Linked DNA regions of Homo sapiens. The protein of the gene in region 1 interacts with the protein of each later gene in a pairwise test. Each region holds a gene or a part of one and is shown in the gene's direction. Other genes may lie near its edges.

Region 1 (4,774 bases):
CAAAAGCATCTCAATAGATGCCTCTAAAATATTTCATAAAATTCATCATCATTCCTGATATTCAAAACCCCTCAATATATGGAAACGATTACTCTAGAAGTGCTTTTAATATGGCAACAGCCCAAGGTAAAATACTAGAGGCATGTTCTTTAGAGCCAATAATCTTCCTCTTTTGGCTTATAGGTATTTGCCTATGCAAAAAGACAAAAATAAAGAATACTTTCTCTTCTGAAGAAGAGAAATTTTAATTAGTTGGAGCTCAAACAATTGGTTTTCTGTCGAGACTGAGAGAATCCCCTGAACAAAGAATTGTCAGAACTAGAAAACAGGTAGCTAAGAGCTTTTTTTATAAACCAGCATTAACCAGTGAGAAAACATAATTTTAAAAAATTTACAATAGCAATTAAAAATAAAAAATAAAAGAAATTTTAATAACCTATATAGAGAAAACAAACTTTGCTGAAGAATGAATAATTGAAGAATCGTATTGCTGGGTTGAATCAATATTGTAACGAGACCAGGTGTTAGGAAAGTAAACGTAACCACAATCAAAATACCAAGATATTTTTAAAATTTATAAAATATATGTAAACTAAAAAACATAATATATAAATATTTTACAAATAAATAAATTTATATATAAAGAAAATAAAAAAATCTATTTGAAAGATTTATTTATGCACTTAGTATATATTCATTCATGTATTTTTAAAGGAGAGTAAGAAGGAAATATTTCCATTTTTTGAAGGTACTATAGGGCTATAGTTATTAAAATAGTACACTATGGGTATAAGAATAGATAGATAATGGAAGAAGATGTAATATCTAGAAATATATTAAATATACAAAATTATATTATATGACAAAGTGGCATCCTCAAATTACTGATGAAAAAATCAGTCATTTCATAGATGATATCAGGATAATTGGTAGACCATAAAAAATATTGAGTTAGAAGACTATCTAAAAAGGCCAGGTGTGGTGGCTCATGCCTGTAATCCCAGCACTTTGGGACGCCAAGGCGGGCAGATCACCTGAGGTCAGGAGTTCGAGACCAGCCTGACCAATATGGTGAAACCCCATCTCTACTAAAAATAGAAAATTAGCTGAGTGTGGTGGCATGAGCCTGTAATCCCAGCTACTCAGGAGGCTGAGGCAGGAGAATCACTTGAACCCAGGAGGTGGAGGTTCAAGTGCCTCCGAGATCACACCATTGCACTCCAGCCTGGGCAACAAGAGCGAAACTCTGTCTCAAAAAAAAAAAAAAATTCTATCTAAAAAATAAAATTAAGAGTTCTAATGCAAACATAAAAATAACTTTTAGATACATTAAAGGTTTAGGTGTAGAAGACAAGACCACAAAAACTACAGAAGAAAAATAGGTTGTATTAGCCTGGAGTGGAGAAGAGCTGCCAAACATATTCCCCAGGGCAAAAATTATAAAGGAAAAGACTAACAGATATGAAAGCATAAAATTTAAAGCTTTTCATATGGCAAGCCCACTTTGAGTGAAAGGTAAATGACAAACTGAGAAAAATATTTGCAATAAAAATTAATATATCAGGCCAAGTGCTGTGGCTCAGACCTGTAATCCCAGCATTTTGGGAGGCCGAGGTGGGCAGATCATGAGGTCTGGAGATCGAGACCATCCTGGCCAACATGGTGAAACCCGTCTCTACTAAAAATACAAAAATTATTTGGGCGTGGTGGCATACACCTGTAGTCCCAGCTACTCGGGAGGCTGAGGCAGAGAATCGCTTGAACCTGGGAGGCAGAGGTTGCAGTGAGTCAAGATCGTGCCATTGCACTCCAGCCTGCAGACAAAGCGAGACTCCATCTAAAAAAAAAAAAAAAAAAAAAAAAAATTAATATATCAAACCCATGAAGAGGTTTTTTTTTTAGTCCATTAAGAAATAGGCAAATACACTTATGGAAATATGAATAAATATGATTCAAGTACATCAAAAAGAACCCCCCAAAATATTCACCCTCACTACTCATAAAGAAAATGCAAAACTAAAGAGCAAGACTCTTCTTCCCCCCCTATCAAATTGGCAAAAATTAAAAAGAAAGAACAAAAATGCCAGCGCTGGTGAGGAATGGGGGGCTGTGTTTGCTAAAGCATCAGAAAGCATACCCTTTCACCCAGCAATTCCATTCCTCAATTTTATCCTGATGAATCCCTATGGATGTACAAAGATGTAGCTACAAAACAAAGACGTTCATCAACGCATCCTTGCTAATAATCAACCAATGCCAAAAAACCTAAATATTGAACATGGTTGAGTATACTGCGGCAAAGTCATTTGGTGGAATGATATTCAATTATTAAAAATGATATTGTAGAAATAGTTACTGAGCTCAAAAGATGTTGAATAACTAGTTGAGCGAAAAAGCAGTCCCCCCAATACTAAGTATGTTATAATCCCATTTTTGTTTTCTCTCTTTCTAATGTATACATGCACCAGGTCCTGTTTAGTACTGGCAGCGTTTAATTCTCACCTTACACATTAAACACACACAGAACAGAAGTACCAAATCTTATTCCCCAACAACTTATGGACCCTAGAAAGCTCAAGACTGGCTTGTAAATTTCTTTGGAAGTGTTCATAACTTTCCTACCCAACCAGTTACCTGATCTGTCTGCGCCCCACCCAGTCAGCTGACCTGTCTGTGCCTCGCCCAATCAGCTGATCTACCTGCCCCCCCATCAGTCAGCTGTCTGTCATTACAAAGAGCAGAGCAAGTACAGCTAGGGATGGCCAACCCCCAAGTCTACCTATAACAAGGTCCTCACCTCATGGTAGAGACTTGGGTGGAGATTTAGGACATCAGGAAGACCCTTAGGAGGCGCTGGACTCTGAAAGGTAAAAGCTGGGTTTGCCAACCCAGCTTCCCAAGGAAAGGAACAAACCAGTTAAAGGAACAAACCCTAAAGGAACACGCCAGTTTAAGGTCAAACTCCTTCATTCCCTCCCACACTCCCTCCCACTGTCCCCCAAAACAAACAGATCAGAATGCCTTCTGAGCTTCTGGTTGGTGACTGAAGTTCCTTTGCTAGGAGGCAATGCCTTTCTTCCTTTCGAGTACGCTCAGAGAAAGAATTTAAAATGCAAATGTCTTGGCAGGGCGTTGGGTTTCCACCAAAGACCGAAATGATTCTTTTTTATTTTGAAAAGGATAAGAGAGTTGTGGGGTTGGGGGAGGGGATTACCTGTGGGGAGACCACTTCCCAGTTTCAAGTAGAACCGGCTGTCCCTCCTCAGCTCAATGCACGCTATGCCTTGAGATATTTTTGCAGGCGGCTGGGTAGAAACTCCGTTCTGGGCAGCACAGAAAGCAGATGTGCCACGGAGGTGCTGGCGGTGGTGAGGCCCTGGCCCTGGAATGATAACATGTGAAGCCTGCAGCACAAGGGCCAGGCAGGGCAGCAGCTGGAGCCGGAAGTAGAATGAGGGTCCTTTGGCCTCAGAGCAGGGGGGACTCTTGGAACCATCACTCACTGCTGATGGCCTTTTCCTCCACATCCTTCCCGGGACCATGTGAAGCTTCAGATATCCTGGTGACCAAGGAGAAGTCAGATGCCCCAAGAGGGCAGCTCAAGCCAAGTACCCATGGCAGGAACCTCTCCTCTTCCAGGGAAAGCAGAACCAAAATAGGAAACCATCAACTCTCCCTCGTTTCGGGGAATCATTTTCAAACAGTTCCAAAACCTCACACATACGTAAATATACAGTGAGCCTGTGCCCGCTCATTAATGAGGAAACCAGCACGATGATAGAGCTGGCTTAAAGGAGGATCCAAGAAACTGAGATGAGCTCCTCATGGAAGCTAGAGTAAGACTCAAAGTTAGATACCAAATAGTTAACATCACAGAGGGGAATAAAACCATAACCTTTGAGGTTATCTTTTCTATTGAACAAAAATCTCTTGCAACTTATCTCACATCCACCAGTTAACCTTCAATTTTAAAGAACCTAAGCCCTAATTAATGACAGATAGTTAAACAAAATTACCTTCTACATGACCCTTAAATGAGCTTGTTGAAAAATACTTTCGCACGATTTTTTTTTTTTTAAGATGGAATCTCGCTCTGTCACCCAGGCTGGAATGCAGTGGCACGACCTCGGCTCACTGCAACCTCTGCCTCCTGGGTTCAAGCGATTCTTCTGCCTCAGCTTCCCGAGTAGCTGGGACTACAGGCGTGCACCACCATGCCTGGCTAATTTTTGTATTTTTAGTAGAGACGGGGTTTCACCATATTGGCCAGGCTGGTCTCGAACTCCTAACCTTGTGAGCCGCCCACCTCGGCCTCCCAAAGTGCTGGGATTACAAGCATGAGCCACCGCGCCCAGCCTTTCCTATGATTTTCAACAGGCCTGCTGCCCAATTCCTGAGTCCCTCCCACCCCCAGTTAAGTGGAGAAAGAGCTAGGATGGAGGCCAGGGAACTTGAATGCTTGAAGGAGAGGCTGAATAACTTAGTGGCTTCTAGTCCTTGGGACCAGACCATTGTACTTGCAAATACTGGGTCTGCTACTTACTAACTGTGGGCCTTCAGCAAGACGTTTAGCTTGTGAGCTTCCGTTTCCTCATCTGTAAAATGGGTGTATAGCAATGCCTCCCTGTCAATGCAGTTAGTGAGGATTAATGTTGGCCTAATTGATTTCACAGTGCTGGGGGCAGTAAGGGTTGCAGTGGTGTTAGCTTAGAAGGTAGGTCCTGGTAAAGTCACAGGGAGAAATGAGAAGGGACGTGGGGAGGTGGGCCCTCCC
Region 2 (5,315 bases), on another chromosome or scaffold:
ATAATGTGTATACATTGTTTGTGGAAATGTAAATTAGTTCCGCCACTGTGGAAAGCAGTTTGGAGATTTCTCAAAGAACTTAAAATAGAACTACTATTTGACCCAGCAATCCCAATATTAGCTATATATCAAAAAGAAAATAAGTTGCTCTACCAAAAAGACACCTCTACTCATACATTCATCACAGCACTATTCGCAATAGCAAAGACATGGCATCAACCTTGGTGCCCATCAATGGTGGACTGGATAAAGAAAATGTGATACATATACACAGTGGAATACTAGACAGCTATAAAAAAATAAAGAAATCATGTTCTTTGCAGCAACATGGATGAATTGGGAGGCAATAATCCTAAGCAAATTAACACAGCAACAGAAAACCAAATACCGCATGTTCTCACTTATAAGTGGGAACTACATTTTGGATACTTATGGACATAAATATGGGAACAATAGACACTGGGGACTACTAAAGGGGTAGGTACAGATATGAGTAAGCATTGGAAATTTGACTAATATATACCATACTCACTACCTGAGTGGCAGAATCATTTGTATCCAAACCCTCAGCATCACACAATACACCAGTGTAAAAAACCTGCATACGTACCTGAATCTAAAATAAAAGTTGAAATTATAAAAAGAGGAAAAAAAGAATGCTCATGCACAGATATGCATGTAAAAATGCCAGGGAGGGTTAATTCATAGCAACAGTTGCTATTTAACCTACTTTACTTGAGGTTGGCAAAGCAATCATTTTTTAAATATTAATTTCTGTTTAGTACAGATTGTCCTTGGTCAGGACTCCTAAACAGAGTGCAAAGTTCTGATTGTGTAATTACATACTATTGTAGGGTGAAAGAGAATTGGTAAACAGGCTCCTGCTGTGACTATAGTACTAGACTGAAGTAGGACTAAAATTGCTCTAGGACTTACTCTGGTAGAAAAGGTAGACCTATCAATAGGGGAAAAAGTCATACCTAACATGATGTAGAATTTTTTTAAATTGTCATGTATATGAATTGAGAAAAAAAATCATGCTATGCATATTATGAGACCAGTTTCCCCAATGGAATAAAATAAAGTACTTGAACAGCTGCTATATTAGCATCTGTTTGTCCATATCATCATCCAGTTACTAGAAAGACATAATTCCCACTCTTCACTCAATATATAGATGGAAGTGGTTTTTATGGTAAATAAAATTAGATTTGCAATAAGACAAAAGTAATGATTCAGGGCTTGGTTAATGTTAAGTTTAAATGTACATATCATGTTGAGAATTTTCTTTGAACACATAACAAAAAAAAAGTGCTACTGAATGAACATTATTGCAATGTAGTAAAGCAGAATGCAAATTCCTTGAGGTCAGCATTCAAGTCTGTTTTCCTCGCAGCGGTGCCCACACACCTAGCATACTGCCTGGCACACAGTAAATGCTCATTAAATATTTGTGAGGTACATGGACAGGGGAATGTGGTAGACAGCTGATGAAGCTTTTCTCCCACTGTTGCCCTAGGTGGATCATCCATAGTCAATTGATTCTGAACTCTGAGGTCCAAGTTCTGCCCTCCTCCTTCACTCTCCCCACAAGTGGGCGGGACAATCCTCCCTGGATTTGAGCACAGGGGGACGGGGGTGGTCAGAGAGAGGTAGGGGCACTCAGAGATCCAGCAGGTGCTGCACCATGAGTGTCTCTGTGCTGAGCCCCAGCAGACTCCTGGGTGATGTCTCTGGAATCCTCCAAGCGGCCTCCCTGCTCATTCTGCTTCTGCTGCTGATCAAGGCAGTTCAGCTCTACCTGCACAGGCAGTGGCTGCTCAAAGCCCTCCAGCAGTTCCCGTGCCCTCCCTCCCACTGGCTCTTCGGGCACATCCAGGAGGTAGGGAGGAACTCAATGGGGGAGTGGGAGGGCAAAGAGGGATGGGGCTCTGAGACCCTGGTCACAAAATCCATAGAGCAAAGCCTTGTTTTGTAACAAATGTGAGGACTCAAAGGAACACCCAGCCTACCTCTCTGGTCTCAGCTTTTCCCAGTCATGAGGAGCTCACTTCTCCCATGAAGCCCATCCTGCTGGTCCTCAGCTCTATCACCCGTGCCCTCCTTCTGCAGATATCAAGTGTGTCTTGGCAGTCCTGCATGTGGAGGGCAATGCCTGATTGTCTCCAGACTGATTACCCCATAAGCCTTGGCTTTCATCAAAGAACAAGGCTTCTAGATGCTCTCTGCCCAGTCACTCAATGCCATCACTCTGCCTGGCCCTGTGTTTGCCAGGGAGCACAGACACCCATCTGAGGAATCCATGCCATGAGGAGTTTATGGTCTGTGAAGAATACAGGCAGGAATTTGAGAAGGTGTCAGACTGCAGGAAAGGAGCTCACTCTGCTGGGGTGGATATCTGAGGCAGAGATCTGCTGGTATAGGGGACCAACTGGCTAAGTAAGTTTCCCCAAGACTCACGGAATTTCCACAACAGGTGATTTAGGATCTGAAAACCTGACAATTATGGGTACACATGAGGGGGGCAGCCTGCACAATGTTCTCCAGGTGAGGAGACTGGTGTTTGAGTTGCACATTGAACAGGGTGTGTTGACCTCCTGGCTCTCCTCCCACACACCCGGACTGTGAGCTCCCTGGCGGTGAGCATGTCATCCCCTTCCTGTGCCCCGGCAATCAGCAAAATCCTGGCACAGCTTGATGATCAGCTCAGGTGTGTAGAGCAAGCTTGTCCAACCCACGCCCCATGGGGCTGCATGTAGCTCAGGATGGCTTTGAATGTGGCCCAACACAAATTCGTAAACTTTCTTAAAACGTTATGAGATTATTTTGCAATTTTTTTGAGTTCATCAGCTATCATTAGTGTTAGTGTATTTTATGCATGGCTCAAGACAATTATTTTTCTTCCAATGTGGCCTAGGAAAGCCAAAAGATTGGACACACCAGGTGTAGAGGAACAGAGGAAGAAGAGAAAGGAGCAGCAAGAGGGCTGAGGAGGGACACAGCCCATCCCCTGTGCACTGCTATCCCTACAAGGGGAGGGGGGCGGGTAGGAACAGAGCAGGTAAACGGCTGCATGGAGAGGGACTCACCAAGGTGCTATGAATTGAACACACTTAAGTAGAGATAGGGGTTGCAGGGAACTGAGGCCTATTGTTTCTCAGCAAAGGAGGCAACATAGTTCTCAGCAGAGCAGAACAAATGTGGGGACCTGCCAAAGTTCTAACCCTATATGGACTGGTCCCAATACCACTCTGCCTTCTTTCCCATTCTCCTCTTTTACCATATGTTACTCACTACCTCACTACCTGCCTCTGCATTTCAACCTTTAGGTCTCTGATCACACTATGCTTGCTACCTGGAATTATCTTCTCACGCATATCTATCTGTCAAGGCCCAGCACCAAGCTACCTCCTTCAAGAAGGCCTCCTGGGTCTCCCAGTAGTGAAGGGCTGACTCTTTTTTCCATGAGCTATCCTTCTCAAGAGGCCAGAGCAGTGTTAACTTGACTCAGTTATTGTTCTGCAGTGTCATAAGTGTGGGATTCTTCTGGGAGAGACCATCTCTGATTTATGTTTGTAACCCAATAGTCCCTCAGTAAATGATGACTCAGTGAGTGAGGAAGAGCTTTCTAATGTTCAGTTCTGAGTTAGGTCCCTCTTCAAAGCTTCCCCAGATGCTTGTCCTTCATTCCATATCATGTCCATTATCCCCTACTGCACAGCCTCTAATCTTTCTTACCCCCCAACTAGACTGAAAATTCCACACAGATAAGGACCACAGCTGTATCCTAACGCAGTGCCTGAGCCACACTGGGCACATAGTATGTGTGCAGTAAGCATGGGCTGAATGAAGGAGCCTACCCCACAGTAGGGCAAGCTGCCTCAGAGCTGGACAATATGATTATCAGAAGGAGATGGGCAGATATTCGATACCTATGTGGTAGACAGTTGCTTTGATTTACTAGAAGCAGTTGAAATAAAGAAGAGTTGGCTACATGGAACATCACTAGGACCCAATGTCTTTGAGGGTTCCAGATGAGATTAAAGCAAAGCTGAGTCTTGAAAGCTGAGGAGAGGTGGCTGCTCTGTGGCAGAGGGGAAGGGCATTCAAGGTAGAGAAAAGAGCAAGTGCCAGGGCCCAGAAGAGTGAGCAGGTGTAGCTGGTGTGCGATTCAGCAGCAGTGGTGGCATCGGCATTGGAGCTGAAACAAACGGGTGATGGTGGAATTGCCAGCAGGGCTGGAGGCAAGAAAAGAGAAGTTGAAGCCAGAAAGCCAAGGGCTTTGTGATCCACATCGAAGAGTTTAGAAAGATGACTGCAGGCAGCAGGGAGCTCATAATTCGTTGATAAGTGAAAATGAGAATAAGAAACCCAAATCTCAAAATTATTGTCCAACACCAGCACCATATGCATATACTCAGACTCCATCCCATAAATCTGTACATATTCAACATGTAGAATACTATTATGCACACAATTTTATAGTTAATCTTTTTTTGCTTACCAATACACATCCCAAATGCTATTTTATCTTAACAAATATTTACCGTATATGCTGGGATAATATTGAAAATATAACAAGTATGATTATATAAAGGCATTGTGTAATTTAAAATGTTTACATTAATTCATTTTATTCTCTAGATATACTAAATGATTTTACAAATCTACTTATCAACTAATATGAGTTATACACATTGCCCATGGAAATTGTTGTATTTATGACTTCCAGAGATGTTACACAACATGAAGACAATGGCTGACTTAAATTTCTGCTGGCAGCATTGAGCGAGGGCTCATAGCGCTTGGCCTAAGGTCAAGTCCTGGGGAGAGAGCAAGAATCTGGATCACAGCTCAGGTCATCAGAAACAGATCTAAATCCCTAACCTGCGCTACATGGCTCCTGTAGTTGTCCTGCCCTTCACTCCTGCTGCAAAGACTAGAAGTAAATGAAAGTGTTCATCTGTCTACCCTTGTTGACAGCTCCAACAGGACCAGGAGCTACAACGGATTCAGAAATGGGTGGAGACATTCCCAAGTGCCTGTCCTCATTGGCTATGGGGAGGCAAAGTTCGTGTCCAGCTCTATGACCCTGACTATATGAAGGTGATTCTGGGGAGATCAGGTGAGATCGAACCCCCATCCCAACTGCAATGTGTCTTCCCTCTTGACACATGCTCCTGGGTCTGTAAAATTCCAGAAGAGAGTGGCTGTTCAAACATCAATATCTGAAACCTCTCCCACGCATCCACCAAGCCCACCATGCCCAGGCTATAGTCAAAAATAGTTACTGAACTCCGAATGTTTAAAACAAT

The links.
Region 2: the proteins of PIK3R5 (region 1) and CYP4A11 interact in a two-hybrid assay, tested with the Homo sapiens proteins (one large-scale study listed by IntAct).

What each region holds. Positions count from the first base shown.
Region 1 is NC_000017.11:8,899,341-8,904,114, reverse strand, and holds part of PIK3R5 (phosphoinositide 3-kinase regulatory subunit 5), read left to right. Parts: intron 1-1,798; exon of another isoform or gene 1,799-1,837; intron 1,838-2,797; exon of another isoform or gene 2,798-2,892; intron 2,893-3,214; exon of another isoform or gene 3,215-3,318; intron 3,319-4,774. UniProt on the Homo sapiens protein: Regulatory subunit of the PI3K gamma complex. Required for recruitment of the catalytic subunit to the plasma membrane via interaction with beta-gamma G protein dimers. Required for G protein-mediated activation of PIK3CG.
Region 2 is NC_000001.11:46,937,806-46,943,120, reverse strand, and holds the start of CYP4A11 (cytochrome P450 4A11), read left to right. Parts: upstream 1-1,644; 5' UTR 1,645-1,687; coding exon 1,688-1,882; intron 1,883-2,304; exon of another isoform or gene 2,305-2,439; intron 2,440-4,983; coding exon 4,984-5,125; intron 5,126-5,315. UniProt on the Homo sapiens protein: A cytochrome P450 monooxygenase involved in the metabolism of fatty acids and their oxygenated derivatives (oxylipins).